Regions from separate parts of the Homo sapiens genome. Here regions 2, 3 and 4 are each linked to region 1. The links come from fine-mapping of genetic effects on gene expression. A gene starts in region 1. Each other region holds a variant in brackets. All regions are shown on one strand. Distances are between the middles of the regions.

Region 1 (8,108 bases):
GCTTGAACCCCAGAGGTGGAGGTTGCAGTGAGCTGAGATCGTGCCACTGCACTCCAGCTTGGGCAACAGAGCAAGACTCCACCCCCACCCCCCAGGTTCAAGCGATTGTCCTGCCTCAGCCTGCCTCAGCCTCCCAAGCAGCTAGGATTATAGGTGCCCGCCACCACCCTGGGCTAATTTTTTGTATTTTTAGTAGAGACGGGGTTTCACCATGTTGCCCAGGCTGATCTGGAACTCCTGACCGCAGGCGATCTACCCGCCTCGGCCTCCCAAAAGTGCTAGCATTACAAGCGTGAGCCACCATGCCCAGTCTTTAGTTTTTTTTTTTTTTTATACTTTTCTTATTGAGATATAATTTATATACCATAGAATTCATCCATTTAAATCATACAATTTAATGGCTTTTAGTATATTCACAGGTTGTGCATCCATCACAATCCATTTTAGAACAGTTTTATTACTCCAAAAATAAACCCTGCATTCCTTAGCCATCACCCCCCAACATCCTCCATCCTCCTTCCAAGCCCTGGGCAACCACCAATCTACTTTCTGTCTCTATAAATTTGCCAATTCTGGACATTTCATATAAATGGAAGCAAACAACATGTGAGACTTTGTGACTGGCTGCTTTCACTTAGCATTCTATTTTTAAGGCTCATTATGTTACAGTACTTAGCAGTACTTCATTCTTTTTTATTCTCAAATGGTATTCCACTGTGTGGGTATCCCATATCATATTATTAGAGACAGGTTCTCACTCTGTCACCCAGGCTGGAGTGCAGTGGCACAATCATAGCTCACTGTAACCTCAAACTCCTGGGCTCAAGTGATCCTACTACCTCAGCCTCCAGAGTAGCTAGGACTACAGGCACACACAGCCATACCTGGCTAATTTTTTTTTTTAATTTTCATTTTATGTATTCATTTTCTTTCTTTTTTGTTGTTGTTGTTTTGAGATAGGGTCTCACTTTGTTACCCAGGCTGGAGGGCAGTGGCATGGTGACAGCTGAGCAGCCTTGACTTCCTGGGCTCAAGTGATCCTCCTGCCTCAGCCTCCCAAGTAGCTGGGACTACAAACACGTGTCACCATGCCTGGCTGATATTTTTTTTCTTGAAACAGGGTATCACTCTGTTGCCCAGGCTGGAGTACAGTGGCGTAATAATAGCTCACTGCAGCCTCCCCTCCTGGGCTCAAGCAATCCGCTGGCCTCAGCATCCTGAGTAGCTGGGACTACAGGCTTGTGCCACCAGGCCCAGCTAAGTTTTAAAAAATGATTTTTGGTATAGAGGAGGTCTTGCTATGTTGCTCAGGCTGTATTTTTATTGTTGAGACAAGGTCTCACTATGTTGCCATGATCCCCCCACCTCCACTTCCCAAAGTGCTCATCTTATCTGTTCATTAGTCAGTTGACAGACATTTAGGTTGTTTCCACTTTTTGACCATTATGAATAATACTCCAGTGAATATTCATGTATACATTTGTGTGGGCATATGTTTTCATTTCTGTTGGGTTTATATCTAGGAGTGGAATTGCTGGATCCCGGGTAATATTTTGACAGGCAGAGTTCAGGGGAAGAAAAACTTGGGAAAATGAAGCATGTTTAGAAATCAGCAAGAGTGCAGGGGTTTTTCGGAGTTTTATTTTATATTCTGTTGACAAATGTGCAGTTTGATGAAGATACAAGTTATACTAAGTGAGAAGTGAGAATTAAGGCTGGAATAGGGCGTTCAGAGTAAAATCATGAAGCACTTTGAATACCAAAATTAAGGAGCTTGGCTGTAAACAAAATAATAAAAAATCACAATTTTTTTTTTTTTTTTGAGAAAGAGTCTTGCTCTTTCACCCTGGCTGGAGGGCAGTGGTGTGATCTCAGCTCACTGCAACTTTCGCCTCCCGGGTTCAAGCAATTCTCCTGCTTCAGCCTCCCAAGTAGCTGGGACTACAGGCACTTCCCACCATGCCCAGCTGATTTTTGTATTTTTAGTAGAGATGGGATTTCACTTTGTTGGCCAAGCTGGTCTCAAACTTTTTGCTGTCATAATTGTTGTAACTATTGTTCCTTTTGCTGAGGTAGGGCCCCCAGACCAAAAAAAATAAATCTTAGAATCCAAATCAGTGTGTTGGTTTGACCACTGTCACTTGAGAACCACAGTGTGACCAGGGCCTCAGGAGTAGAGGTGATCTCTGCTCGAAAGAGAAATAGAATGAAAATATTCTCCGGGCCAGGCGTGGTGGCTCATGCCTGTAATCCCAGCACTTTGGGAGGCCAAGGCATGTGGATCACCTGAGGTCAGGAGTTCAAAACCAGCCTGGCCAACATGGTGAAACCCCGTCTCTACTAAAAATACAAAAAATTAGCTAAGTGTGGTGGCGCATGCCTGTAATCCCAGCTACTTGGGAGGGTGAGGCAGGAGAATTTCTTGAACCCGGGAGGCAGAGGTTGCAGTGAAGCGAGATCACACCACTGCACTCCAGCCTGGGGGAGAGAGCGAGACTTCCTCTCAAAAAAACAAAAAACAAAAGAATTAAGCAAATTAGACATTGCAGAGAGAACCTGAAGGGGGTCAGACCACGTACAGATTTCTGTGCCACATGCCAAGTACTTCTGAGGCATGACTGGATGAGCTGTCCACATCTGAAATCATCCAGTCTTGTTCAGAACTTTCACACCGGACAGGGAGCCAGGACTGGAATGCAGTCTCCTGGTCACTGGCCAGAGAGTTGGCCTGACCCTGAGACCAGTGGCCAACAAAGGAGCTGCTTAGTCTACCTCCCAGGAAATCCCAGGTGCTTGTCTTCCTGGGAAGTGAATCATTGGCGCAGCACTCCGTATTTTCTCCTCTTCCCAGGGGAAGGATCCTAGGGCAGTATTTGGGAAAGACATGGGCATGGAAGGACACCGGGTGAATGCATAGCCTGCCTGGTTCTGAGCTCTCATGGTAAGGCTCCTACAGACACGGAAAAGATGGGGGCACAGGGACAGATCAGTAGGGTCAGAGCATCTCAGGGACCGAGGGCAATATGGTCCTGAGCAGGGATTAAGAGCTTGGGCTCTCATATGGTGTTTCTGGGCTCAACTGCCAGCTCCATCACTTACTGGTTGCTGTGACCATGGGCAAGTTATTCCATCTCTCCATATCTCTTTCCTCACTTTTAAAATGGAATAATGGGGTACCCACCTCCCAGGGTCACAGAGAGGCTTACAGAAAACGATTCTTGTGAATTGGCTTGCAGTAATAATTCAATACCTGCCAGCTATTCTTATTCCACATCCAAGCCCTTTCGCCTGCTGCTGGGTGAAAACACATGTCAGTGTTTCCTGACGGTTTCCACAAAGAAGATTCCAAAATTACAACCTGCCAGTCTGAAGAATCTCCAAAACATCCCGCACGCATCCTGGAGGCGCGGGCTTGGGGATGGGACTGCCCGCCCGGGTCCTGAACAGGATGCGTGCGCGCAGGCACACACACACCAGCCAGCCTGTGTGTGCGGCCGGAGTCCGGTGCGGTCCCGGGTGAGCAGCGCGTGGCTGGTGGGCGGGGCAGAGCCATTGTTCGCAGGCGTACCGAGTCCCCCGCGCTCGCCCGGGAGGGAGGCGGGGCTTCCCGCGTCCCCCAAGCTCCAGATCCTGGGGTGGCTGCCACGTCTCCCTGCCACGCGCCTGGGGGGACGGAAGACGGGACGGAGATGTTAGTGGTGGGCGCCCCCCGAGGGTTCACCACTGTTTCCTGAGAAACTTCCCCAGTGCCCACCCACCCGTTCTCCGTGTGCCCGAGGGCCGGTCCTGGGCTAGGCTCCGCGCCCCAGCCCCAAACCGGGTCCCCAGCCCCTTCCAGAGAGAAAGCTCCCGACGCGGGATGCCGGGCAGAGGCCCAGCGGCGGGTGGAAGAGAAGCTGAGAAGGAGAAACAGAGGGGAGGGGGAGCGAGGAGCTGGCGGCAGAGGGAACAGCAGATTGCGCCGAGCCAATGGCAACGGCAGGACGAGGTGGCACCAAATTCCCTTCGGCCAATGACGAGCCGGAGTTTACAGAAGCCTCATTAGCATTTCCCCAGAGGCAGGGGCAGGGGCAGAGGCCGGGTGGTGTGGTGTCGGTGTCGGCAGCATCCCCGGCGCCCTGCTGCGGTCGCCGCGAGCCTCGGCCTCTGTCTCCTCCCCCTCCCGCCCTTACCTCCACGCGGGACCGCCCGCGCCAGTCAACTCCTCGCACTTTGCCCCTGCTTGGCAGCGGATAAAAGGGGGCTGAGGAAATACCGGACACGGTCACCCGTTGCCAGCTCTAGCCTTTAAATTCCCGGCTCGGGGACCTCCACGCACCGCGGCTAGCGCCGACAACCAGCTAGCGTGCAAGGCGCCGCGGCTCAGCGCGTACCGGCGGGCTTCGAAACCGCAGTCCTCCGGCGACCCCGAACTCCGCTCCGGAGCCTCAGCCCCCTGGAAAGTGATCCCGGCATCCGAGAGCCAAGATGCCGGCCCACTTGCTGCAGGACGATGTGAGTTTCCCAGCCTGGCCCCGTACCGCCGGGTCGCAGGCGCGGGCTGGGCTTCCAGGGGACGGGTTGGTGGCAGAAGAGAGGGGAGAGCTCCGCGGAGGACTTGGTCATCTTTTTCGAGTTGTGCTGCCTTCCGTGAGTTGGGAATGTGGATTGTAATTTGGGGACTTGAGTCTCCAACTTTAGTTTCTTAAGCTTTAAAGAAAAATCCGGTCGTGCTGGTGCTTTTATGAATTATGCGGGTTTTCCTTTGTCTTCGTGGGGATGTGAGTGCTTTACTTCTCCTTCCTACTGCCGCCTCCCGATAGGTTTCGCGCCCCTCGTCCCCCTCGCCCTCCGCCCCTAATGTATCTGTACAGTTTCAGGGAACTTTTCTCCGTTGCGTCTCGGATACACCCTACCCTCAGTGAACTACGGCGCTGCGGAAGGGTCCGTACTGTCCACCCTTCCCCCAGCGTGATTAGAGAGCGGAGTGGCCCCAGCTGCCTCCACGTGTCTCTTCTCCTGACTCTCCTCTTCCTCCCCCTTCCAGATCTCTAGCTCCTATACCACCACCACCACCATTACAGCGCCTCCCTCCAGGGTCCTGCAGAATGGAGGAGATAAGTTGGAGACGATGCCCCTCTACTTGGAAGACGACATTCGCCCTGATATAAAAGATGATATATATGACCCCACCTACAAGGATAAGGAAGGCCCAAGCCCCAAGGTTGAATATGTCTGGAGAAACATCATCCTTATGTCTCTGCTACACTTGGGAGCCCTGTATGGGATCACTTTGATTCCTACCTGCAAGTTCTACACCTGGCTTTGGGGTAAGCAGCCTCCCTGTCCTCCTGACCTAGTCCTCCAGGTACTCACTGCTCTTTTAATAAGGTAGGATCTTACAGAGGACACCAGCCCCTCCCAGCCTCCCGGTTGGGGTTTTTCTCAGGCATTTCTCTTTGGTTGCTTCAGGCCTAGTGGGCTGGGAAGAACCTGGGGGTACTGAGATGCAGGACTGTCAATGCTGGGGGTTGAGAGCTTTGGAACCTTGTGCTTGTGGGCTTTGAAGTGTGCTGTGCTGGAGAGTCAGCTTTCCCTGAAAGAGCTTTTCTGTTTGAGTCATTTGCTTGGCTGCCTGTCCCACCCCTGCCAGCCACAAAAGAATCAAACCCCTCTACCTGGGAGGCATGGGAACATGGTACTAAACCATTGGCTTTCTAGGGTTTGTGTTGAGCAATCATAGGCTAGCACAAGGGAAACTACTCAGGGAGAGAGTTTATTGGAAAGGGAGGAGAGAGCTCATTGGAAAGAGAGGAAAAGAGAGGTTGTTATCCACAAAACTATTTTGACCTGACCCCTTGGCCAGACCAGGCTTCTTCGTTACAGAGGAAGATGAAGCTCCCGTGCAACCCAAGTCACACAGGTGTGTGTTGCTCTGTTACTCTACATTCCAGGGTGCTGCACATACCAGTCAACAAAATGCTCTTAGAATGAAATCAGGCTGAAGATATGTTTCATGTTCCATCCCCCGTCCAGCCTGCTTCAGGCCCCCCTACTGATGCCATGAAGTGCCAAGAATTCTGCACCTTCCAACACCAGTCCTACCCATCCCTCCTTGCCAGGGACATCGAGGCCAGGCCAGAAAAGAGAGCCCGGTCTTGAGGCTGCTGTAATGAGGGAGACAGTTCCCAGTTTGTCCCCGACCTGCCCTTAGCTCAGCTCTTTCAGGGACCTGTTGGTGTGGCCTGATGGCATGGCCCTGCCCCCTGGATACACACATGCGCTTTGCAGGCTTTTTCACCTCTGTCACTATGAGCCTAAGTTGGGAAGGGAAAGCAGGGAGCTCTGCAGATCCAGGGGCCCTGCACTGCTACTCTCTAAGGGGTGGTGAGCCAGGACTTCTGGTGTGGGAAACTTTCTGACAGCTCGCTCTTGAAGGGTAGTTATGCAGAAGGGCTGGTAGGCCAAGTTTTAGCTGTTTCCCTCAGGACCTCTTAGGTCTTCTGAAGATGGTGAGATCTGGTTCATTGAGCTTTTGTTTCCAGAAATCCTCCAGGTGCTACAGTGAAATGCAACTGAGAAGAGCCCCTTTGTCAGGATCTCAGTTTTTCTAGGTACCACCTGTGGGCAACAGTACTTTTTTAGGATGGGGAAGGTAGCATTCCTTGGGTTACATATGTGTCACAGCCGCAGAGACAGAACAGGCCAGGTGCAGATCAGTTCATCTGCATACCAGGAAGAGCTCTTGTATTTGTGAGGGGAGGGCGACATCTGTTGTCTAGCCCCTCTGAGGATCCAGCAGAACTTCAGTTGCAGCTGAGGGATGAGGAGCAGGGATAGCATTCCCCAGGCAGTCTGTGGATGCCTCTCTCCACCCTTTCTCCCCAAGAGGATAGTCTTCACAAGTAGTTTTCTCTCCTGCAAGCTCCTTCCAGCCTCAGCACCCCCTGTAGGTTTCCTGAAGCCCAGAGTTTGACCCGATTGCCTCTGCTTGGTTATCCTCAGTTGCTACTGCAAGGAGCAGAATTCCATCCCAAAGTGAAGGCTGTGCCTGCTACATTTTTTTGGTGACCTGCCCATGGGTGTGTGCTGTGCCCTTGGGCAGATAAATGTGGCTCACAGAGACTAGATGGTAACTTATTTTACTGGGCCCTTTGGTGGATGGCTTAGCTGAAAGAATGACCATGTCGATGTGGGGATATCAGAACTCCTCTGTCTTGAGAAACAAGGAGGGTGAGGGGAGGAGGGTCAGAGGTCTCAACTTGGACATCTTCTCTTCCCACCTTCAGAATTTAGGAGCTTCACCTTTCTTGTTTTAATCCCTATGGACAATGTTAAATTAGCAACTGGTCGTGATTCCAGCATTTCTTATGACTGAGCACTTTTGAGAGCCTTAAATCTCTTTCATTTTGGAGTCTCCCAAAGAAGCCCTTAGGAGAATGCCTCTGGCAACACTGAGAGCCAGAGGCAAAACCATTCAAGTCTCTTTCTTAAGGCCAGAGCAATGAGATGTTGCTTAACCATCAATCTGGACATTTTCCTCCCCTGGGGAGGAGAGAAGGAATAAATCTCCAACTGATTTAAGCCCTTCTATTTGATAGGCTTAGAGGTGTTTCTAGAAAAGGCACCAGAGTGCCTGAGTTCTTTCCCCAATTTCCCTGTTAATATAGGATCTTATATACGTTCTGAGTCAACACTGCCCTAGGGTCTTGCAGCAAATAACAACCCTAGAAGCTCCCTTGCTCATTAGAGAGAGCTCTGGCTCAACTGATGGTTTCCCGAGTAAGATGCAGGTAGATACTGTATCTGGGGAGATGTCAGTCACCACTTGGCTTGAGGGCAGATCACCTGGGGCCTCAGTCCCCACTCTGAGGGAATGTGGAGAGAGCTCTTGTTGGGGCTGACTGGCTCTGTGGCTCTCCTGGAGATCTTATAGGAGGAATAGAAGAGAAGAAAGGAGGTAGGGTTGGGGGGAAAAGGAGGTTGTTTAGGAAACAGCTATCAATGGCTGCAAAAGAACACAGGACAATTTGTTACAATGTGTGGTGTCTCCAACTGCAACTAAGTTCTGTGGCCACTGAGGATCTATTGTTTCTAGCTGTTTCCCTAGGAATGAAACATTGTTAAGA
Region 2 (8,108 bases), 350 kb before region 1:
TTCATACTAGCAACACTGAAACGAGACAAAGATCAGTGCATCATTTAACCACCATAATTCACAATTTGTCCCCACTCCTCTAGCAATATCTTGATATCTCTGACAATTTTATTTTTATTTTTATTTATTTATTTATTTATTTGAGACGGAGTCTTGCTCTGTCACCCAGGCTGGAGTGCAGTGGTTCAATCTTGGCTCACTGCAACCTCTGCCTCCTGGGTTCAAGTGACTCTCCTGCCTCAGCCTCCCGAGGAGCTGGGACTACAGGCATGAACCACCATACCCGGCTAATTTTTGTATTTTTAGTAGAGATGGGGTTTTACCATGTTGGCCAGGCTGGTCTCAAACTCCTGATCTCAAGTGATTTGTCTGCCTCGGCCTCCCAAAAGTGCTGAGATTATGGGCGTGAGCCACTGCACCCAGCCAACTTTTAGCCCTTTCTATACCCATGTCCATTCACCTCTATATTCAAACTTTTTCAGCTACTTCTTATTCTTATAATATATACGCTAGTAGACAGAACTGCTATTCAATAATCCTCACCCTCTTGTAGGAATTATATATCCTTACAAGATGTGTAATTATATGTGTATAATAATGTATATCATTATGTATATCATTAATAGTATACAAATATAGAATTGCATATCCATACCCTTTACTGTGTAATCATGCAGTGCCTCCCACTACAGGCAGAGTATGTTTCCCTGTCACATTTTGGTAGGACTTGGAGTGGAGTGGAGATGGCATAAGCACAGGCTTTCAGCCATTATTTTATGGTTTGGCCTGTCCTCTGGTGCTCCTGTAATCTGCCATTAGAAGAGCATGCCCTGAAAGCCCCTGGCTCTTTAGCCTGGGCCCCAGAATGAAGACAAGAAAAAACAGACTTGAGGCCAGGCGCAGTGGCTCACGCCTGTAATCCCAGCACTTTGGGAGGCTGAGGCAGGTGGATCATCTGAGGTCAAGAATTCGAGACCAGCCTAGCCAAGAAGGTGAAGCCCCATCTCTACTAAAAATACAAAAATTAGCCAGGTGTGGTGGTGGGCACCTGTGATCCCAGCTATTTGGGACACTGAGACAGGAGAATCACTTGAACCTGGGAGGCGGAGGTTGCAGTGAGCCGAGATCGCGCCATCGCACTCCAGCCTGGGCAACAAGAGCGAAACTCTGTCTCAAAAAAAAGAAAAAACAGACTTGAACCCAAATGGAAGACTATAGGATTCAACCTAGTCTAGCTCAGATCAGCTAAACTGCTATGTACCCCCTCTTCTATTAAACTGCTATGTACCCCCTCTTCTATTAAACTGCTATGTACCCCCTCTTCTATTAAACTGCCCCCTCTTCTATTAAACCCATACATAACTCTTACCATCTGAGTTAACTATTCTCTTTTGGATCCATCCCTGTTTCCTGTATGTCCTACAGGGCAGGGATTCTTTTTGTCTATTTTATTCACTGATGTCAATCAAGCACCTAGAGTTCTGCCTGATACACAGTAAGCCCTCCGTAAATATTTGCATGATGAATGGTTTAACATACTGAACTGTCTTAATTTATACATCAAAACGTACATTCACATTCCCAGTGATCACACTATTCTTTCCCACAGAGGTACATGAGGTTTCACAGGACTTATTTCCAGGTTAGGAAGGTTGGGTTTTGTTTTTTGGGCAATTAGCGGCACCTGAAGATTTTTTAGTAGGCAGATACAATGGTTAAAATTAGGATTGGCTGGCTAGGCGTGGTGGCTCATGCCTGTAATCCCAGCACTTTGAGAGGCTAAGGTGGGCAGATGGCTTGAGCTCAGGAGTTTGAGACCAGTCTGGGCAACATGGTGAAACTCATCTCTACTGAAAATACAAAAATTAGCTGGGCATGGTGGCGTGCAACCATAGTCCCAGCTACTCGGGAGGCTGAGGTGGGAGGATGGCTTCCACCCAGGAGGCAGAGGTTGCAGTGAGCTGAGATACACCACTGCACTCCGGCCTGGGTGACAAAGCCAGATCCTGTCTCAAAAAAAAAAATAAAAAATAGGATTGGTTGCAAATGACTAAACACCCCAAATTAATGAATAAAAAAAAAAAAAAGGACAAGAAAGACAGTGTGTGTATAAGTGTATATATATACACACATATACATATATACACACATATATATACACACACATATATACACACATATACACACAAATATACATATATATGCACATGTATATACACATATATACACATATATACACATATATACACACATATATACACACATATATACACATATATATATATACACATATACATATACACACACACACACACATATATATATATATATATAGCTTTTTCCAGGTGAAGGCAAAGATATTCTAAGCAACATCATTATTCTGGTTGTTTCTCTTCATCTCATTTTTTAAAAACAGGTTTATTGAGACATAATTCACATACTATACAATTCACCCATTTAAAGTGTACAATGAGTTTTTAGCATATTCAGAGTTGTGTGACCATTATCACTATCAATTTTAGAACTTCAAAACCTCATAAAGAATTTTTTTTTTTTTTTGAGATGAAGTCTCACTCTCTTGCCCAAGCTAGAGTGCAGTGGCGTGATCTCGGCTCACTGCAACCTCTGCCTCCCGGGTTCAATCGATTCTCCTGCCTCAGCCTCCTGAGTAGCTGGGACTACAGGCACGTGCCACCATGCCCGGCTGATGTTTGTATTTTTAGTAGAGACAGAGTTTCACTATGTCAGCCAGGGTGGTCTCAAACTCCTGACCTCGTGATCTGCCCACCTCGGCCTCCCAAAGTGCTGGGATTACAGGCGTGAGCCACCGCGGCCGGTCTGAGAAATTTTATACTCACTAGCAGTCACTTCCCATTTCCCCACAACATCCCCTCTCCTCTCCAGCCCTAGGCAAACACTAATCTACTTTCTCTATATATAGATTTGCCTATTTGGGACATTTCATATAAATGAAATCATGTAATATGTGGTCTTTTGTGATTGGCTTCCTAGTACAATGTTTTCAAGGTCTTCATATCATTTTAAAATAGAAATATGATCAGCTTCATCATGAAGACCTTGAAAACATTGTGCTAAGAAGCCAATCACAAAAGACCCCATATACTCTGGGAGGCCAAGGCAGGCGGATCACAAGGTCAGGAGATCGAGACCATCCTGGCTAACATGGTGAAACCCCATCTCTACTAAAAATACAAAAAGTTAGCCAGGCGTGGTGGCAGGCGCCTGTAGTCCCAGCTACTCGGGAGGCTGAGGCAGGAGAATGGTGTGAACCCAGGAGGCGAAGTTTGCAGTGAGCCGAGATTGCACCACTGCACTCCTACCTGGGTGACAGAGCGAGACTCCACCT[CAA/C]AAAAAAAAAAAAAAAGAAATATGATCAGCTTAGAGCGTATGTAAGTTAAGCTGGGAGCAGTAGCACATGCCTGTAATCTCACCACTTTAGGAGGCCAAGGGGGCAGATGGCTTGAGCTCAGGAGTTCAAGACCAGCCTGGGCAACATAGTGAGACCCCATCTCTAAAACAAAAAATCCAAAAATTGGGCGGGTGAGGTGGCATGTGCCTATTGTCCCAGCTACTTGGGAGGCTAAAGTGGGAGGACTGCTTGAGTCCAGGATGTTGAGGCTGCAGTGAGCTGAGATCACACCACTGCACTCCAGCCTGGGTGACAGAGCAAGATCCCGTCTCAAAAACAAAACAAAACAAAATGTAATAGTTAAGAGCACAGACTATAGAGCCAGACTACCTAGATCTATATGGCAGCTCCATCCCTTATTACAGCAATTACTTAACTTTTTATTAAAACAATTACTTAATTACTTACTTGCTTCTTTGGAGCAAGTTAATTCTCTGTGTCTTAACTTTCTTATCTGTAAAATGGGTTTAATAATAGAACCTGGCTGGGTAAAGTGGCTCACGCCTGTAATCCCAGCACTCTGGGAGGCTGAGGCAGGTAGATTGCCTGAATCTAGGAGTTTTTTTTTTTTTTTTTTGAGACGGAGTCTGGCTCTGTCACCCAGGCTGGAGTGCGGTGGCGTGATCTCGGCTCACTGCAAGCTCCACCTCCTGGGTTCACGCCATTCTCCTGCCTTAGCCTCCCGAGTAGCTGGGACTATAGGCGCCCGCCACTAAGCCCGGCTAATTTTTTGTGTTTTTAGTAGAGATGGGGTTTCACCGTGTTAGCCAGGATGGTCTCGATCTCATGACCTCGTGATCTACTCGCCTGGGCCTCCCAAAGTGCTGGGATTACAGGCATAAGACACCGCATCCGGCCGAGTCTAGGAGTTTTAAGACCAGACTGGGCAACATGGTGAAATCTGGTCTCTACAAAAAATACAAAAAATTAGCTGGGCATGGTGGTGTGCAACTGTAGCCCCAGCTAGTCAGGAGGCTGAGGTGGGAGGATCACTTGAGCCCAGGAGGTCAAGGCTGCAGTGAGTGGTGATTGCACCCTCTAATCTGGGCTACAGAGCAAGACCCTGACTCAACATAAAAATAAAAATAAAGATTCAACATAAAAATAAAAATAAAACCTGCTCATAGGGTTGTAATGAAATTAATATATGTAAAGCACTGAAAATAGTACCTCACAAATAGTAAGCATTACACCAGTGTCAGCTATTATCATTATCTGCATTAAAGAGAGAGGAATTGTAGATAGACACTCCCAAAACCTTTTTCATAGCATTGGGATGTATTCTGGTATTTAATATGTTTGAAAATGAATGTCTCAGGAATGGAAAATGAGCACTGACTGCTACTGGGTATGAAGTTTCTTTTGGGGGTAATGAAAATGCTCTGGAATTAGTGGTGAATGGGTGTACAACTTTGTGGATATACTAAAAACCACTGAATTATATACTTTTAAAAGGTGAATTTTATGGTATGTGAATTGTATCTCAATTTTTAAAAGTAAGTGTCTCTCCTCTTTCCGAAATCTCTATACTTCACACAAAATAGTGAAGGCAGGCCAGGCATGTTGGCTCATGCCTGTAATCCCAGCATTTTGGGAGGCCAAGGGGGTTGGATCACTTGAGGCCAGGAGTTCAAGACCAGTCTGGGCAACATAGTGAGACTGTCTCTACAAAAATTTATTAAAAATTAGCTGGGCATGCTGGTGTGCACCTGTAGTCCTAGCTACTTGGGAGGCTGAGGTGGAAGGATCGCTTAAGCCTGGGAGATTTGAGGCTGCAGTGAGCTGTGATCATGCCACTGCATTCCAGCCTGGGCAACAAAGCAAGACCCTGTCTTTAAAAAAACTGTGAAGGTAGAAAAAAAATAGAGAAGGCATACATGAATATTCTGCCTTGAAAAAAGCTAGAAATTTAAATAGCTTCCCTATTCTGCCACCCACATCCACCTCCCCTCCCCTACAAAGTTTTTCCTACACTTAATGTTTTAATAGATACTTTAAACTTGTGTTTTATGCCTGTTATAGGATGGGCATGGAGGGTAGGTAACAAACACAGTGTTTGATTAAGTGAACTTTCACTGGGTGGATGATGCTACATAAAAGAGCAAATTTAAAGAGAAGTCATATTTGCTACTGAATTGTATTAAGTAATAACTACATAACAGTTAGGAGCCCAGACTCCAGTCAGACAGAATTTAGTTTCAATTTCTGGCTCTGCCATTTATCAAGCTATGTGACCTTGGGCAAGTTACTTAAACCCCTCTGAACTTTAGTTTCCTCATCTGTAATGGAAGATAATAACAGTAATTTATTTCATAGGGCGTATAAGGATTAAATTTGATAATGTAGGTAAAACATTTAATACATTTCCTGGCAAATGGTACATACAGTACTCAGTAAATGTCAGCAATGAGAACAGTGATGACAATGGCGGGTGATGACGATTATGACCATCATCACCCAGGCGGAGGGGAACATAAATAATAGGGATGAGACAGCAGGCTCTAGGCGGGGCCAACTTCTCAAAACTGCTGCTGTCTTCTTGAGAGGAAGGGGGAGTCATGTGACTCTGTGGTTACTGGTCACCAGGACAACGCAATTGACGTGCCCCTCTACTCTAAGCTCTAAAATGAGCTGTGTCTTCACAGCAGACCCACAAGGATTTGGCAGAAGTTTATAAATGAGATCCCTGCATATGGGTCCAGGAAAGCCTTTGCCAAATGCCTTCCAGGAATAGAAGAGGGATATGAAATCAATTTACTGACTGTTCTAAAACATATCCTGTACTTCTAGGAAAAACATTGGCATTACTGTTAAATCCTTTAAACACATCAAACTATGATTCTCATCATCTTTTCTTTGGGGCTCCTGCAATAGCTTCCTAAATGGCTACCTACCAATCTTATCTGCCTTTGTCCTATTTTCCACACCCAACTAGGATTATCTTCTTAAAAATGGTTTTGTTTGTTTGTTTAAAGAGACAGGGTCTTGCTATGTTGCCCAGGCTGGACTCAAACTCCTACTCAAGTGATCCTATGGCTTCAGCCTCCCAAGCAGCTGGGCATGCGCCACTGTGCCCAGCTTGAAAACAATTTTTTTTTTTTTTTTGAGACAGTCTCACTCTGTTGCCCAGACTGGAGTGCGGTGGTGCGATGACAGCTCACTGCAGCCTTGACCTCCCAGTCTCAAGCAATCCTCCCATCTCAGCCTCCCAAGTAGCTGGGACGGCAGACGTGGGCCATCACGCTCAGCTAATTTTTGTATTTTTTGTAGAGATGGATTTCCCCATGTTGCCCAGGTTGGTCTCTTCCTGGGCTCAAGCCATCCACCCACCTTAGCCTCCTGAACTGCTGGGATTACAGGCATGATCACGGCACCTGGCAAAAACAGAAATCTTATACATCTTTACCGCCTGAAGTTCCTCTAAGGCTTCCCCATCCATCACTTGCAGGAAGTGTCTAAAACTTGTTTGCAGATCATACAAAGCTTGTCATGAGCTAGTCCCGGCATACAAGTTTGACCTCATTTCTTGACACCCTTCTACCTACCATATACACTAAGCTCTAGCCTCACCAAAATACTGGCAGGGGAATCTAGGAAAAAGACATCCAATTTTGTTTAAGTCATGACCAAACAGGCTTGTTGGGGGCATTTCATGGGGTGAGCTTTGAAGTGCTGGTGGGCCAGAGTGGTTGCAGATATGTGACTTGGAGCACCTGTGTCTTATGATGGACAGAAATAAAAGTGAATACACAGAGAGACAGGCTATTCTATAAGAATGTGACAAACAATCTGGAAGAGCAACTATATAAACACTGTCTGATTATCTTTGCCTTTTGGGGCCAGTGGCTGTTGCCAAAATAATAAACACGTCTGTCTTCAAGAAGGGACAGTGGAGTCACCCAGGTGCTGCCACGTCAGGCACAGTAGGCATTGATCTACAATGGGCAGTTCTCTGCAAGGCCACGTGGACACATTATTACAGTACAATTACATTTACAGACTGCTTTTCAAATACATTATCTCCTGTATGTATTATTGCTACCTGTGAACAGTTGTGAACATGAAGTGCTATTTTTATTGTTAGCTGATCACTGCAGGGAAAACAATCAGTAAACTAGCAAATCACCTCTCATCAACACTTACTGTGAATAATAATTATATTTTAATTTTTAAACGTTTGGAATCACAAGAAGAGAATATTCACCAAGCCTGAATCCCACCTATGGGATACAAGAATAACGTTTGAACATGTTGGTAAAATTCAACCCAAAGGCTGGGGGCGGTGGTTCACACCTGTAATCTCAGAACTTTGGGAGGCCAAGGCAGGTGGATCACCTGAGGTCAGAAGTTTGAGACCAGCCTGGCCAAAATGGCGAAACCCCGTCTCTACTAAAAATAAAAAATTGGCCAGGCATGGTGGCACCCGCCTGTAATCCCAGCTACTCAGGAGGCTGAGACACGAGGATCACTTGAAACCAGGAGGCAGCGGTTGCAGTGAGCCGAAATCGCACCACTGCAATCCAGCCTGAGTGACAAAGCGAGACTCCAACTAAATTAAAAAAATAAAATTCAACCCAAAAGATTTTCATAACTGTTTTCAACATCTTTAATCAAAGCAAAATCCTTACTTAAAATAACCAGCTAGTAAAATAATAATAAAAGTATTAAGTAGGGTTAT
Region 3 (8,108 bases), 71 kb after region 1:
GTACCTGGGACTACAGGCACACGCCACCACGCCCAGCTATTTTTTTATTTTTAGTAGAGATGAGGTTTCACCACATTGGCCAGGATGGTCTCAATCTCTTGATCTCATGATCCTCCTGCCTCGGCCTCCCAAACTGCTGGGATTATAGGTGTGAGCCACCGCACCCAGCCCATAAAACATTTTTTAAAAACAAAAGCAAGAAAGAAAAAAGCAAAAGTCCTGGACTCTGGGTCTATAAACTAATTTGCTTTCTTCCTAAAAAGTCTGTTTACGTTCCAAGACAGAAGAAATTCCCAATAGCTTTCTTTTTGTGGAGCAAATAAATGGAAGATGGAAGGAGGGAAGATAGGAGAAAAAGAAAGAAGGGAGGAAAGGAGAGACAGAATCAGATTAGTTTCAATTCAGACTTTTCACAAAAATACAAATTTTGGCCAAATTTTGAAAATATCAAGCATCTGCCGAGCGTGGTGGCTCATACCTGTAATCCCAGCCCTTTGGGAGGCAGAGGCGGGCTGATCACCTGAGGTCAGGAGTTCAAGACCAGCCTGGGCAACATGGTGAAACCCCATCTCTACTAAAAATACAAAAATTAGCTGGGCTGTGGTGGCACGCACCTGTAATCCCAGCTATTCAGGAGGCTGAGGCAGGGGAATCGCTTGAACTCAGGAGGCAAAGGTTGCAGTGAGCCGAGATCACATCACTGCACTCCAGCCTGGGTGACTCAAGGAGAGCCTGTCTCAAAAAAAAAAAAAAAAAAAAGACATGAAAACATGAAGCATCAGTAAATTGAACATGATACCTTCGTTTTTGTAGACCAAAGTGAATCACTTGGTAGATCACGCAGCAGTTCTGATCAATCTGGATAGAGTTGAGATAATGACATGCCCATCCTTAAGTGCGAAAGAGAGTGATGTCTCATTTAACCAGGTGGTGCCATCTCCAGTCACTGACCTTCTCTAAAGTGACTGCTTGGCACATACTGGTTGTTTCCATGGCCGAATTATTCCTATGCCAACTTGACTTATGAAATGCTTATGAGAAGTATAACAAATATTGTAAAGGCAGGGCACAGAGGCTCACTCCTGTAATCCCAGCACTTTGGGAGGCTGAGGTGGGTGGATCACTTGAGGTCAGGAGTTCGAGACCAGCCGGACAAACATGGTGAAACCCCGGCTCTACTGAAAATACAAAAAATTAGCTGGGTGTGGTGGTGGGCACCTATAATCCCAGCTACTCGGGAGCAGAGGCAGGAGGATTGCTTGAACCTGGGAGGTGGAGGTCGCAGTGAGGCAAGATTGTGCCACCGCACTCTAGCCTGGGCGACACAGCGAGGCTCCATCTCAAAAAAAAAAAAAAAAAAAAAATTGTAACGAAAGGCACAGACAGGTCAAGTGGGCTTTTTAAATTACACTTTCCTAATGTTTCTTTTCATGATGATAAGGTAGAAAACAAAGGTCGCCATGAGGATTTTCAAACCACCATTTGCAGGAGCACAAAAGAACAAAGATGTGTTTAAATATTAAAAATTTTCAAATCGAGCTAAGAAACAGTTAAATAAAATAAGAGAAAGATATATTCTTTCCCTTTCCCTTGACACATATGCCTTCATAACCTAGAAGGCTAGATTTGGGTTTAGAATTCTCAAGTTCCTGAGAGTCCCACACCAGAATGTGGTGGTGTGGGACGAGCTGGCCCCAGCACCAGCCTCCAGACCCCTTCACTCTCTGCCCCAGCTCTGTCCACACCAGGAGAGTTCTGATGCTCATTCATGTGAACTCTGCAGGTCCCATGTTTAAGTCTCATTCCACAACAATCAAGCAGCCACCCCCTTGGGTCTAGTGAGGTGTGCACAGGGGGTACAATACATCCTTGGGAGGACAGACCCAGGGAAGAGGTCCACGCAGGCTCTGGAAGTGGATCTGGGGACATTTGGGCAAGATATTTTGGGGTTCCAAGTTCCTAGTCTTTTGTGTGTATGTGTGTGTGTGTGTGTGAGACGGAGTCTTGCTCTGTCACCCAGGCTGAATGGAGTGCAGTGGCGCAATTTCGTCTCACTGCAACCTCTGCCTCCCAGGTTCAAGCGACTCTCCTGCCTCAGCCTCCCAAGTGGCTGAGATTACAGGCCTGTGCCACCACACCCAGCTAATTTTTGTATTTTTAGTACAGATGGGGTTTCAGCATGTTGGCTAAGCTGGTCTTGAACTGCTGACGTCAGGTGATCCATCCACCTCGGCCTCCCAAAGGGCTGGAATTACAGATGTGAGCCACCACACCTGGCCTCTATTTGTTAATTTTTAATATCAACTGTAGATGTTATCTTTTTAATATAGACAATCTCAAACTTTAGAGAAGTTGCAAGTACAGTTCAAAGAACCTTATCTTTTTCTGAACCATTTGAAAGCTAGTTGCCAGTTTAGCCCATCATGTTTGTATTCTTTCTTTCTTTTTATTATTATTTTCTCTCAAAAAGATAGAAACTCACACCTTTGCATTCTTTAGCGTGTGTTTCCAACAAGCATTCTCCTATATAACCACATTACAACCATAAACTCAGGCCTCGTTCAGTCGTCCCAAGAATGTCCTTTTTAGCAGAAGAATCCAATCTGGAATCATGCATTGCATACAGTCATCATGTCTCCTTAGTTGCCTTCAATTTAGAACAGTCTTTTCCTGACTTTCACAATCTTGACATTTCTAGCTTAATGGCCACTTGTTTTTTAGAACATCCCTCAATGTGGGCTTGACTAATGTATCCTCATGATGAGACTCAGCTTACGCATCTTTGTCAGAACTGTCACCAAGGCACCGATGCTGTGTTCTCACTGCATCCCATCCGGTGGCACGTGATTTATATTTGTCCCATTACTGGGGATAGTAATTTGGTTCAATTGATTAAGGTGGCGGAGGACGGGTACTTACTAATTATTTGGTGGGGAGATACTTTCCGACTATTGACTATCCTATTCTTCAGCAAATGGATGTCTCCTCACAGCACTTGGGATCCAGCCATGCACACCAGCTTCCCCTCCACATGGCTGCTCTCTTTACCCACCCCTGCCTGGTCGCTTCTCCTCTGCTTAGACTCCAGCACCTGATTTTAAGCACCACTCGTCCCCACAACCACTCCTGTCATGAAGACATCTACCTTGCTTACCATTAGGCTTTTGGATTAAAGTTGTTTATGAAGGGAAGAAGGGAAGGGCAGAAGAGGGAGGAAAGAGGAGGGCAGGAGAAGCAAGAGGAAAGCAAGAAGGGGAAGGAGTGAAAATGCAGAGGAAGAGAAAGAACAATATTGATTTACTTTCATAATGGAGAATATGGGAATAATCTGAATTAATGTTAATTCAACATTAGAAAACACTTCTTTTAAATCTGAAAAACAATAAGGGTTCTTATACTACGTTTTTGTTTTTTGTTTTGAGATGGAGTTTCACTCTTGTTGCCCAGGCTGGAGTGCAATGGCGCAATCTCGGCTTACTGCAACCTACACCTCCCGGGTTCAAGTAATTCTCCTGCCTCAGCCTCCCGAGTAGCTGGGATTATAGGCATGTACCACCATGCTCAGCTAATTTTGTATATTTTTTAGTAGAGACGGGGTTTCTCCATGTTGGTCAAGCTGGTCTCGAACTCTTAACCTCAGGTGATCTGCCTGCCTTGGCCTCCCAAAGTGCTGGGATTACAGGCTTGAGCCACCACAGCCGGCACTACGTTTTAATTATTATTATTTTTTCTCTTTGGTAAAATAAGCTCATACTATGATATCCACTTAATGTGGAAAAACTAAGAAAGGGATTTCTCTAGTTCATATGGCAAATGACCAGCTGAGCTAGGATAAAAAAAAAATTGTAGGGTGAAATCTGTTACTATCTTGTCTCTACTATCTTTGCCTGGCTAGTTTCTGCCTTTTGTTTAAAAATTATAGGTAGGATGGGTGCCGTGACTCACACCTATAATCCTGGCACTTTGGGAGGCTGAGGTGGGCAGATCACTTGAGCCCATGAGTTCAAGACCAGCCTGGGCAACATGGCGAAACCCCGTCTCTACAAAAAAATACAAAAATTAGCTGGATGTGGTGGCACATGCCTGTAGTCCCAGCTACTTGGGAGGCTGAGGTGATAGGATGGTTTGAGCCCAGGTGGCAGAGGTTGCAGTGAGCCAAGATCATGCCACTGCACTCCAGCCTGGGCAACTCTCAAAAAAATGAAAGAAAGGAAAGAAAAGGAAAAAAAGAAAGAGAGAGAGAGATAAAGAGAGAGAGAGAAAGAAAGAAAAAGAAAGAAAAAGAAAGAAAGAAAGAAAGAAAGAAGGAAGGAAGGAAGGAAGGAAGGAAGGAAGGAAGGAAGGAAGGAAAGAAGGAAGGAAAGGAAAGAAGTAAAGAAAAGTCCAGGCACAATGGCTCATGCCTGCAATCCCAGCATTTTGGGAGGCAGAGGTGGGCAGATAGCTTGAGCTCAGGAATTCGAGACCAGCCTTGGCAACATGGTGGAACTCCCATCTCCACACTCACACGTGCACAATTTAAAAAGAAAAAAGAAAAATTATGTGTAGAGTTAGTGCTTATATAGCGTGATTGAAGGCGACTTTGAGGTTCCAAATACCTGCTGGAAAAAAGCAATTCCCCTACACAGGTTGGGAAGTAAAACACCCCCAAAACCCCACAGTGGTATAGCTTCCAGTAAGTGTTTAAGTACACACATGGAGCTGGGCTGGAGGCACGAGCTCATATTTCCAGATACTCGGGAGGCTGAGGGGAGAAGATATCTTGAGTCCAGGAGTTCAAGTCCAGCCTGGGCAACAAAGTGGGAGACCCCATCTCTGAAAACAAAACAAAACAAAACAAACCACATCTATTGCCTGAAAGACAGCAGGCTTTTAAGATA[G/C]AGTCCTTTAAACATCTCCTGGCCAGGCGCGGTGGCTCACACCTGTAATCTCAGCACTTTGGGAGACCAAGGTGGGTGGATCATCTGAGGTCAGGAGTTCAAGACCAGCCTGGCCAACGTGGTGAAACCCTGTCTCTACTAAAAATACAAAAATTAGATGAGCATGGTGGTGTGTGCCTGTAATTCCAGTTACTCAGGAGGCTGAGGCAGGAGAATTGCTTGAACCCCTTTGCAGTGAGCCGAGATCATGCCACTGCACTCCAGCCTGGGGTGACAGAGCAATACAGTAGCTTAAAAAAAAAAATCTATTGAGAAGGCTGAAGGCTGGGCACAGTGGCTCACACCCATAATCCTAGCACTTTGGGAGGCTGAGGTGGGAAGAACGTTTGACCCTTGGAGTTCGAGACCAGCCTGGGTAACGTGGCCAGACCTCATCTTAATCAGCAAGGAAGGAAGGAAGGAAGGGAGGGAGGGAGGGAGGGAGGGAGGGAGGGAGGGAAAGAAGAAAAGAAAGAAAAAGAAAGAAAGAAAGAAAGAGAAAGAAAGAAAGAAGAAAGAAAGGAAGGAAGAAAGAAAGGAAGGAAGGAAAGAAGGAAGGAGGAAGGAAAGAAAGATAGATCTATTGAGGCAGGACATGGTGACTCATGCCTGTAATCTCAGCACTTTGTGAAGCTGAGGCAGGAGGATTGCTTGAGGCCAGGTGTTCAAGACCAGCCAGGGCAACATAGCGAGACCCTGTCTCTAAAAAACAAAAACTAAAAAAGTTAGTCATGTGTGGTGCTGCATGCCTGTAGCCCCAGCTACTTGGGAGGCGGGAGCATAACTTAAGCCCAGGAGTTCGAGGTTTCAGTGAGCTGTGAATACATCACTGCACTCCAGCCTGGGTGACAGAGGGAGATTCTGTCTCAAAAGAAAAGGAAAGAAAAGAAAAGAAATATCTATTGAATGCCTGCCTTGGGCCAGGTACTGCTAGGGAGATGGCAGTGAACTAGACAATCATGGTACCGGTCCTCATAGAGCACCACAGTACAAATATGATGAATGTTACAAAAGCAGAAACCACAGGGGCTAGGAGAGGGTATAATACGGGAAGCTGACCTGGTAATCTTTTTGGAGACTTGAAGAAAAGAGGAATTAGCTAAGTGAAAAGTCAGTGGGAGAAGAGAGAGGAGGCAGCAGAGTGCTCTAGGCAGAGGGAAAAGTATACAGTGAGGCCCTAAAAGTAGGGCCTCACAGAAATAGAACTAGGAGAAGGGTGGCTAGCGGTAAGGTAAAGATATAAGCAAGGAGGGACCAGGACATAGAGGGCCTCTCAAGCCATGGTAAGAAGTGTAGACTTTATCCCAAGGGCAATAGAAAACCAATGAAGTGTTTTAAGCAGGAAGGTGACACGCAGAATTGCATTTTTAAAAGATCACTATGGATCTAGCATGGTAAATAGACTGTGGGGGCAAGGATAGACACAGGGGAGCCAGTTAGGAAGGTATTTCGGTAGTCTAAGTTGAGATACTGATAGCAGTGAAGTGGAGAGAAGAGGACAATCTGGAGACTTCGGAGTTAGAATTAACAGCACCTGGTGATTCAATGCAGGAGGAGAAAGCGTCAAAGATGATTCCTTACCTTTTCCTTGGTAGCGCTTTCAATTATGACTAAGTAGTTATTTGTGCAAGTATTTGTTTAGCTGCCTTCCCCACAAGATTATAAACAACCCTAGGACAGGGATTTATCTTGAACATCTTACTTAGGTACATGCTGTAGCAGGGTGTGTGGCACATAGTGGTGTTTAAAAACGATGTGTTAAGGCTGGGCGCGGTGGCTCATGCCTGTAATCCCAGCACTTTGGGAGGCCTCAGGAGATCGAGACCATCCTGGCAAACACGGTGAAACCCTGTCTCTACTAAAAATACAAAAAAAAATTAGCCGGGCGTGGTGGCAGATGCCTGTAGTCCCAGCTACTCGGGAGGGTGAGGCTGAGGCAGGAGAATGGTGTGAACCCGGGAGGTGGAGCTTGCTGTGAACCGAGATTGCGCCACTGCACTCTAGCCTGGGCGACAGAGCAAAACTCCGTCTCAAAAAAAAAAAAAAAAAAAAAAAAAGAAAGAAAAGAAAAGAAAGAAAGAAAGAAAAAAAAAATATATATATATATAAATTAGCCAGGCATAGTGGTGGGTGCCTGTAATCCCAGCTACTCTGGAGCCTGAGGCAGGAGAATCACTTGAACCTGGGGGGCAGAGGTTGCAGTGAGCCGAGATCGTGCCATTGCACTCCAGCCTGGGGCAACAAGAGCGAAACTCTGTCTCAAAAAATAAAATAAAAACTATGTGTTAAGGCCGGGCATGGTGGCTCATGCCTGTAATCCCAGCACATTGGGAGGCTGAGGTGGGCAGATCACTTGAGGTCAGGAGTTCAAGACCAGCGTGGTCAACATGGTAAAACCCCATATCTACTAAAAAGCAAACAAATTAGCCAGGCTGTGGTGGTGGACGCCTGTAATCCCAGCTAGTAGGGAGGCTGAGGGAGGAGAATTTCTTAAACCTGGGAGGTGGAGGTTGCAGTGAGCCAAAATTATGCTACTGCACTATAGCTTGGGTGACAGAGTGAGACTCCATCTCAAAAAACAAAACAAAACAAAAAAAGCTATGTGTTGGCTGGGCTTGGTGGCTCACGCCTGTAATCCCAGCATTTTGGGAGGCCAGGGAGGGAGGATCGCTTGAGCCCAGGAGTTTGAGAGCAGCCTGGGCAACATAGTGAGACCCCACCTCTACAGAAAAATAAAATAAAATTGGTTAAGCGTGGTGGTGCATGTCTGTAGTCCAAGCTACTAGGGAGGCTAAGGTGGGAGGATGGCTTCAGCCTGGGAGGTGGAGGCTGCAATGAGTCATGATCACACCAGACCCTGTCTCAAACAAAACAAAACTGTTGGTTACATTGTATTTCTCAGCAACCGGGTTTATGGTGATATCACTCACTGAGTTTGGGACATGGAGAATGAAGAAGAGGTTTGGGGGATGAGTTTAGTTTTTTTTTTATTTTTATTTTTATTTTTATTTTTTATTTTTACAGAGTCTCACTCTGTTGCCCAGGCTGGAGTGCAGTGGTGCAATCTTGGCTCACTGCAACCTCTGACTCCCAGGTTCAGCTACTTGCCTCAGCCTCCCTAGTAGCTGGGATGACAGGCGTGCACCACCACACATGGCTAATTTTTTTTTTTTTTTTTTTTTGTGAGAC
Region 4 (8,108 bases), 250 kb after region 1:
AAGTAGAATTCTAAAATATGTTCAAGTTACCCCAGAAAGGCAGGAAAAAGAAAACAAATAAAAAACAGAAATAACAGCAAACAAAAAATAAAGTGGCAGACTTAGGCCCTAACATTGATAATTACATTAAATATAAATGGCCTATGTACATAAACTAAAAAACATAGCTTGGCAGAATTGATTGGTATTTATGATCCAACTATATGCTGCCTATAAGAAACTCACTTCAAGTATAACTATATAAGCAGACTGAAAGAAAAAGGGTGGAAAAAGATATATCATACAAATGTGAATCAAAATAGGAATGGCTACATTAATATCAGATAAGGTCTACCTTAGAGCAAAGAAAATTATCTCAGATGGAGAGGGACGTGATGTAATTATAACAGTGTCAATCCATCAAGAAGACATAACAATCCTAAATGTCTATGCACCAAGCAACAGAGTTGCAAAATATGTGAAGCAAAACCTGATAGAACTGAAGGAAGAAACAGACAAATACATAGTTGAGGACTTCAACACACCCTCAACAATTGATAGAACTAAATAGATAGAAAACCAAAATAACTCAACAATACCATCAACTATTAGGGTCTCATTGACATTTATAAAGCACTCCATTCAACAACAGCAAAATACACATTTTTTCCAAGTGCCCATAGGACATATGCCAAGATAGAGCATATGCTGAGCCATTAAACAAACTCAGCAAATTTAAAAGAATTGAAATCATATAGAGTGTGTTCTTTGACCACAAATGGAATTTTTAAAAAATTGAATTGATAATAGAAAGATTGCAAGAAAATCTTCAAACACTTGGAAACAAAACAACACACTTGTAAATAATCCATGGGTCAAAGAGGTAGTCACAAAGATACACCAAACTGAACAAAAATGATAATACAACATCTTAAAATTTGTGAGTCATAGCTAAAGCAGTGGTGACAGGAAAATTTATAGCACCAAATTTATGCATTAGAAAAGAAGAAAATTTCAAATCAACCATCTAAGCTTCTACTTCATGAATCTAGAAAAAGAAGAGCAAAGGAAATCCAAAGCAAGTGGAGGAAGGAAACAATAAAGAAAAGAGCAAAAGCCAACAAAACTAGAAATGTGAAAATGATAGAGAAAATCAGTGAAACAAAGAGCTAGTTCTTTGGAAGATCAATAAAACTAATAATCCTCTAGCAAGACTGACAAAAAATAAAGAATGAAGACACAAATTACCCATATCGAGAATAAAACAAGAGATATCACTACAGACCCTGCAGACATCAAATGGATAATGGAATACTATGAAAAACTACACATATAAATATTGACAATTTAGATGAACTGGACAAATTTCTTTAAAAATACAAACTACCCCAACTCCCCCAACAGGAAATAGATAATTTGAATAGCCCTCTATTAAGGAAATTGAATTCATAATTTAAAAACTCCCCAAAAAGGAAATCTTCAGGCCTATATGGTTTTACTGGAGAGTTCTAACAAATGTTTAAAGAAGAAGGAACAACATTATGTAATCTCTTCCAGAAAATAGAAGAAGAGGGAACACTTTCCAATTAATTTTATGAAACTAATATTACCCATCATCAAAGATGGTATGAAAAAAAGAAAAAAAAGAAAATTACAGACCAATATTCTTCATGAAAATAAATGTAGAAACACTCAAGAAAATACTAGCAAATAGAACCCAGCAATATATAATAAAAATTAGATACCATGAGTAGTTGGAGTTTATTCCAAGGATGAAAGGCTGATCCAATATTCAAAAATCAACTAATGTACTTTACCCTATTAACAGACTAAAGAAGAAGAATCACATAATCATATCAGTTGATGCAGAAAAAGCATTTGACAAAATCAAATTGGAATATCTAAACCGGTGCCATAATACAAGAAAAGGAAATAAAAAGCATACAGATCAGGCCAGGCACAGTGGCTCACACCTGTAATTTCAGTACTTGGGGAGGCCGAGGCGAGTAGATTACTTGAGGCCAGGAATTCAAGACCAACCTGGCCAACATGGCAAAACACTGTCTCTACCAAAAATACAAAAATTAGCCAGGCGTGATGGCAAATGTCTCTAGTCCTAGCTACTCGGGAGACAGGCACGAGAATCGCTTGAACTTGGGAGGTGGATGTTGCAGTGGGCTGAGAACATGTCACTGGACTCCAGCCTGGCAAGATTCTGTTAAAAAAAAAAAAGCATACAGATCAGAAAAGAAGACATTCTTTTCTGCTGAGAAAATCCAAAGGAATCTACAAAAAAAGTTCTAGAACTAAAAAGTGAGTTCAGCAAGGTTGAAGAATACAAGATAAATATGCAAAAACATCGATTGTATTTCTACATACTAGCAATGAACAGATGGACACTGAAATTAAAAATGAAACACTATTTACAGTCACTCAAAAGTAAAATAAAATACTCAGATGTAAATACAACAAAACATGCAGAACTTGTGTACTGAAAACTGCAAAATGCTGATGAAATAAATAAAAGAAGATCCAATAAATAAATGAAGAGACATACCATATTTACAGATTGGAGGACTTAGCCAAGTGTGGTGGCTCACCCCTGTAATCTCAGCACTTTGGGAATCTGAGGCAGGCAGATCGCTTTAGTCCTGGAGTTGGAGACCAGCTTGGGCAACATGGCGAAACTCCATCTCTACAAAAAATACAAAAAAATTAGTCAGGCATGGTGATGCACACCTGCAGTCATAGCTACTCAGGAGGCTGAAGTGGAAAGATCATCTCTCCACAGCCCAAGAGTTCCAGGCTGCAGTGAGCCATGATCATGCCACTGCACTCCAGCCTGGGTGACAGAGTGAGACGCTGTCTCAAAAAAAAAAAAAAAAAAAAAAAAAAAATTGGAAGACTCAATACAATAAAGATGTTGATTCTTCCCAAGTTGATATACAGGTCTAACAAAATTCCTGTGAAAATCACAGCAAGATGTTTTGCAAATATAGATAAGATTATCCTAAAATTTATCTGTTAAAGGCAAAGGAGCTAAAATAGCTAAAAACAATTTTGAAAAAGAAGGATAAAGCTATAGTAACCAAGAGATTGGTAGAGGTATATACACATAGATTAATGAAACAGAATAGAGAATCCAGAAATACAGCCACACAAATATGCCCAGCTGATTTTTGGCAAAAGTACAAAAATAACTCAATGGAAGAAAGATGGTCTTTTCAACAAATGGCTCTGGAGCAAGTGGATATCTGTAGCTACCCCCTGCCCCCACCCCCACCAAAAAAAGGAAAAAAACCTCAACCTAAGGTCTCACACCTTATTCACAGTTTAACTTGAAATGAATCACAGGCTGGACATGGTGGCTCACGCCTGTAATCCCGACACTGTGTGAGGGCAAGGTGGGCAGATCATGAGGTCAGGAGATCAAGACCATCCTGGCCAACATGGTGAAACCACGTCTCTACTAAAAATACAAAAATTAGCTGAGCATGGTGGCACATGCCTGTAACCCCAGCTACTCAGGAGGCTGAGGCAGGAGAATTGCTTGAACCAGGGAGTCGGAGGTTGCAGTGAGCCGAGACCGCACCACTGTACTCCAGCCTGGTGACAGAGCAAAACTCTGTCTCAAAACAAACAAACAAACAAACAAAAACCAAACAACAACAAAAAAATTGAATCACAGACTCAAGTGCACAAATGTAAAATATAAAATTATAAAACATTTAGTAAAGAACATAGGCAAAAATCATCAGAATCTAGGACTAGGCAAAGAATTCTTAGACTTGATACCACAAGTATGAGCCAGAAACTGGGCATGGTGGTTCATACGTGTAATCCTAGTGCTTAGGGAAACCGAGGTGGGAGGATTGCTTGAGGTCAGGAGTTTGAGACCAGCCTTGTCAACACTGTGAGACCCTGTCTCTAAAAAAAAAAAAAAAAAAAAAGTCATGAAGATATTAAATTTTTTAAAATAAAATTTTTAAAATAAAATTTTTAAAAATAAAAGCATGATCCATATAAGGAAAAATTGATATATTGGACTTTATCAATTTTAATATTTTAGCTCTATGAAAGACTCTGTTAAGAGGATGAAAAGACAAACTAGAGATTGAGATGAAATATTAGCAAACCACATGTCCAACAAAGAACTAATATCTAGAATATATAAAGAATATTTAGACCAGGCACAGTGGCTCACACCTGTAATCCCAACACATTGGGAGGCTGAGGTGGGTGAATTGCCTGAGACCAGCCTGGGCAATATAGTGAGACCTCATTTCTACAAAAAATTTTAAAAATTAGCCAAGCCTAGTGGTGCGTACCTGTAGTTCCAGCTACTTGGGAGGCTGAGGTGGGAGGATTGCTTGAGCCCGGGAGGTGGAGGTTGAAGTGAGCCATGATCACGCCCACTGCACTCCAGCCTGGGCAACAGAGTGAGACTCTCTCTCGAAAAAAATAAATAAATAAATAAATTTAAAAAGACCATTTAAAACTCAACAGTAAAAACAAAACAAAAACCAATAAACCAATTAGAAGATGGGCAAAAGACATGAAGAGACATTTCTCTGAAGAGGATATATACATATGGCAAATAATCACACGAAAAGATGTTCAGAAAAATTAGCTCATTAGGATAATTTTTTTAAAAAACCCAGTGAGATATCATACACGCCTGTTGGTAGTGGGATTGTACCTATGAATAGCCACTGCACTCCAGCCTGGACAATATAGCAAGACCCCATCTCTTAAAAACAGAAAAAAAAATGTAGGTGACAATCCCAAATGCTGGCAAGAATGCAGGGATGGTCACTGACACATTGCTGGTGGGGATGTCAAATGGTATAGTCACTTTGGAAAATAGTTTGGCAGTTTCTTAAAAAAATTAAACATACACTTATCATAGGATCCAGCAAGTGTACTCCTAGGTGTTTATAATGATGTCCTCACAAAACCTGTACACAA[C/T]TGTTCATAGCAGCTTTATTAATCATAACCCCAAACCGGAAATAATCCTGATATCCCTCAGTGGGTGAATGGTGCATGGTGGTACATCCATGCCAAGGAATACTACCTAGTAATAAAGAAGAATGAAGTAATAGTACATGCAGTGACCTAGACCTAGATTCTCCAGAAAATTATGCTGAGTGAAAAATCCAGTCTCAGAAGGTTACACACTGGCCGGGCGCGGTGGCTCACACCTTTTATCTCAGCACTTTGGGAGGCCGAGGCAGGCGGATCACTTGAGGTCAGGAGTTTGAGACCAGTCTGGGCAACATGACAAAACCCCATCTCTACTAAAAATACAAAAAACTATCCGGGTGTAGTGGTGTGCACCTGTAGTCCCAGCTGCTTGGGAGACTGAGGCACCAGAATTGCTTGAACCCAGGTTAAGGTTGCAGTGAGCCGAGATGGCGTCGCTGCACTCCAGCCTGGGTGACAGAGTGAGATTTTATTTTTTTATCAAAAAATAAAAAATAAAAAAGGTTACGTATTGTATGGCTTCATTTATGTGATATTCTTGAAATGACAAAATTATAAAAATGGAGAACAGATTAGTGGTTGCCAGTGGCTACGAAGGGAGTGAGGGCTAGGCAGAAGAAGGTGTGGCTACAAAATGGCAACAGAAATGATCCCAGTGGTGATCGAAATGTTCTGTACTTTGGCTGTTATTGATGTCAATGTCCTGCTTGTGATACTGTGCTCCAGTTTTGTAAGATGTTACCATTAGGCAGGTGAAACTGTGCAAAGGGTATTGTTTTATTTCCTGCAACTGCACATGAATCTAAAATTGCCTCAAAATAGAAAGATTAATTTTAAGAAACAATAAAAGAAAATTAGTACAACTTGTTTTGCACAAGTTCTTCATAGACCTCACCCTGAGAGATGGAGCACAGCTGAAATAGTATATCAAGAATCAAAAAGGCCGGGCATGGTGGCTCACACCTGTAATCCAAACACTTTGGGAGGCTGAAGCATGTGGATCACTTGAGGCAAGGAGTTCGAGACCAGTCTGGCCAACATGGTGAAACTCTGTCTCTACCAAAATACAGAAATGAGCTGGGCATGGTGATGCATGCCTGTAATCCCAGCTACTTGGGAGGCTGAGGTAGGAGAATGGCTTGAATCCAGGAGGCAGAGGTTGCAGTGAGCCGAGATCGCACCACTGCACTCCAGCTTGGGAGACAGAGCAAGATTCTATCTCAAAAAAACAAAACAAACAAAAAAAGAATCAAAAAAGGTTGAAGTAAATGCACGTATGGAAATTCCCAAAAGCATTCTGTGATCCTTGAGGCTCCCCTTTAATGCCAGGGAAAACAGCTATTTCCCCTCTAACACTCTTGGAGATTATGTCAATACTGGGATGTGGGCGTAAGATTACAGGCATGAGATTACACCTGTAATCTCAGCATTCTGGGAGGCCAAGGCAGGAGGATTGCTTGAGACCAGGAGTTCAAGACCAGCCTGGGCAAAAAAGTGAGACCCACATCTCTACAAAAATAAATAAATAAACAAACAGACAAATAAATAAATATAACAAAATTAGCCAGGCGTGGTGGTGTATGCCTGTGGTCCCAGCTATAAGGGAGGCCGAGGCAAAAGGATCACTTGAGCCCAGGAGGTAGAGGCTGCAGTGAGCCGTGTTTGTGCCATTGCACCCCAGCCTGGGTGAAAGAAAGAGACGCTGTCTTTAAAAAAAAGAGGCGGGTGGGGGGTTCTGAAATTAAGGGGGCCATTGGACAAAGCTAGAAGGCAAGTCTTCAGTTTTTATGCTGCAGGAAGATTTGAAAGGAGCTGTGGGATAGATGTGAGGGAGAGCAGAGCCGGTTTAGAGACCAGCCCATCCAGGAATCCTCTACAGCCATTGCTCTAGTTAGGCATCCCCTCCCCTCTGTCCCATTAACCTCCATTATAATCCAGTAAGATCAATAACTTTCTTATCAGTTTCCCTCTCTAAACCCTACGTTTCTGGAGGGCTGGGGCCACTTCACAGTTTGCCTTTACATACCATAATTTTTTTTTAATTTTAACTTAAAACAAATAAAGGAATATTTGCTGTCCACTTTGTTCATGTAGGACCAAGACCTTTCTTTGTGTATGGATGCACTGATTGACATTTCACCATCATCTTTCTTTTCTCTCTTTCTTTCTCTCTCTCTCTCTGTCTCTTTCTCCCTCTCTCCTTCCCTCTCTTTCTCCCTCCCTCCCTTCCTCCCTTCCTTCCTTCCTCCCTTTCTTTCTTTCTTTCGTCTCTCTCTCTCTTTTTTTTTTTTTTGACAGAGTCTGACTTTGTCGCCCAGGCTGGAGTGCAGTGGCGCGATCTGGGCTCACTGTAACCTCCGCCTCCCGGGTTCAATGGATTCTCCTGCCTCAGCCTCCCAAGTAGCTGGGATGACAGGTGCCCGCCACCATAGCTGGCTAACTTTTGTATTTTTAGTAGAGACGAGGTTTCACCATGTTGGCCAGGCTGGTCTCGAACTCCTGACCTCAGGTGATCCACCTGCCTCGGCCTCCCAAAGTGCTGGGATTACCGGCATGAGTCATCACACCCAGCCTCATCTTTCTTTAATGAGCTACACCCAGAATGTGCTGACTGCCATTTTCAGCTTTGATTTCTTTAACATTGATTGGGAATTGGAAAGTATTTGAGAACCAATATGAGTGAAATTCCTAGGTTTTTTTTTATGATTGTTCCTCATCTTTTCCAGTTGTCTCACCAATACATAATTTGATAACAAAAACTTTAAGCAAGTTGGTGTTATGGAATTTTTCCAAACAGCAACATTAGTTTTGCACTTGTATTTTATTGGTTTATGTAACATTTAGTTAAATTAGATAAGAATAGTATGTGCAGCTGGCATAAACAGGCTGCGTTAAAAACAAATCACTCTGGTCGGGCACGGTGGCTCAAGCCTGTAATCCCAGCACTTTGGGAGGCCGAGGCGGGCGGATCACGAGATCAGGAAATCGAGACCATCCTGGCTACCACGGTGAAACCCGGTCTCTACTAAAAATACAAAAAATCAGCCGGTCGCGGTGGCGGGCGCCTGTAGCCCCAGCTACTCGGGAGGCTGAGGCAGGAGAATGGCATGAACCTGGGAGGCGGAGCTTGCAGTGAGCGGAGATCG

The links.
Region 2: its variant is fine-mapped to the expression of SCD in whole blood (INTERVAL, PIP 0.97).
Region 3: its variant is fine-mapped to the expression of SCD in whole blood (INTERVAL, PIP 0.94).
Region 4: its variant is fine-mapped to the expression of SCD in whole blood (TOPMed, PIP 0.97).

The regions. Positions count from the first base shown.
Region 1 is chr10:100,343,038-100,351,145 of GRCh38, forward strand. SCD (stearoyl-CoA desaturase) reads left to right here and starts at 4,196. Exons shown (of 6, transcript NM_005063.5): 1 at 4,196-4,494; 2 at 5,027-5,309. The coding sequence starts at 4,468. RefSeq lists silencers at 3,461-3,840, 4,041-4,090 and enhancers at 3,631-4,222, 3,871-3,940, 4,321-4,560.
Region 2 is chr10:99,988,538-99,996,645 of GRCh38, forward strand. The region is part of intron 1 of DNMBP (dynamin binding protein); the gene reads right to left. Among named protein-coding and RNA genes, the nearest start is that of DNMBP, 17 kb to the right of the region's middle. The variant CAA/C (reference allele first, on the strand shown) is at 3,368.
Region 3 is chr10:100,414,141-100,422,248 of GRCh38, forward strand. No RefSeq gene overlaps it. Among named protein-coding and RNA genes, the nearest start is that of OLMALINC, 45 kb to the left of the region's middle. The variant G/C (reference allele first, on the strand shown) is at 4,881.
Region 4 is chr10:100,589,491-100,597,598 of GRCh38, forward strand. No RefSeq gene overlaps it. Among named protein-coding and RNA genes, the nearest start is that of HIF1AN, 58 kb to the left of the region's middle. The variant C/T (reference allele first, on the strand shown) is at 4,948.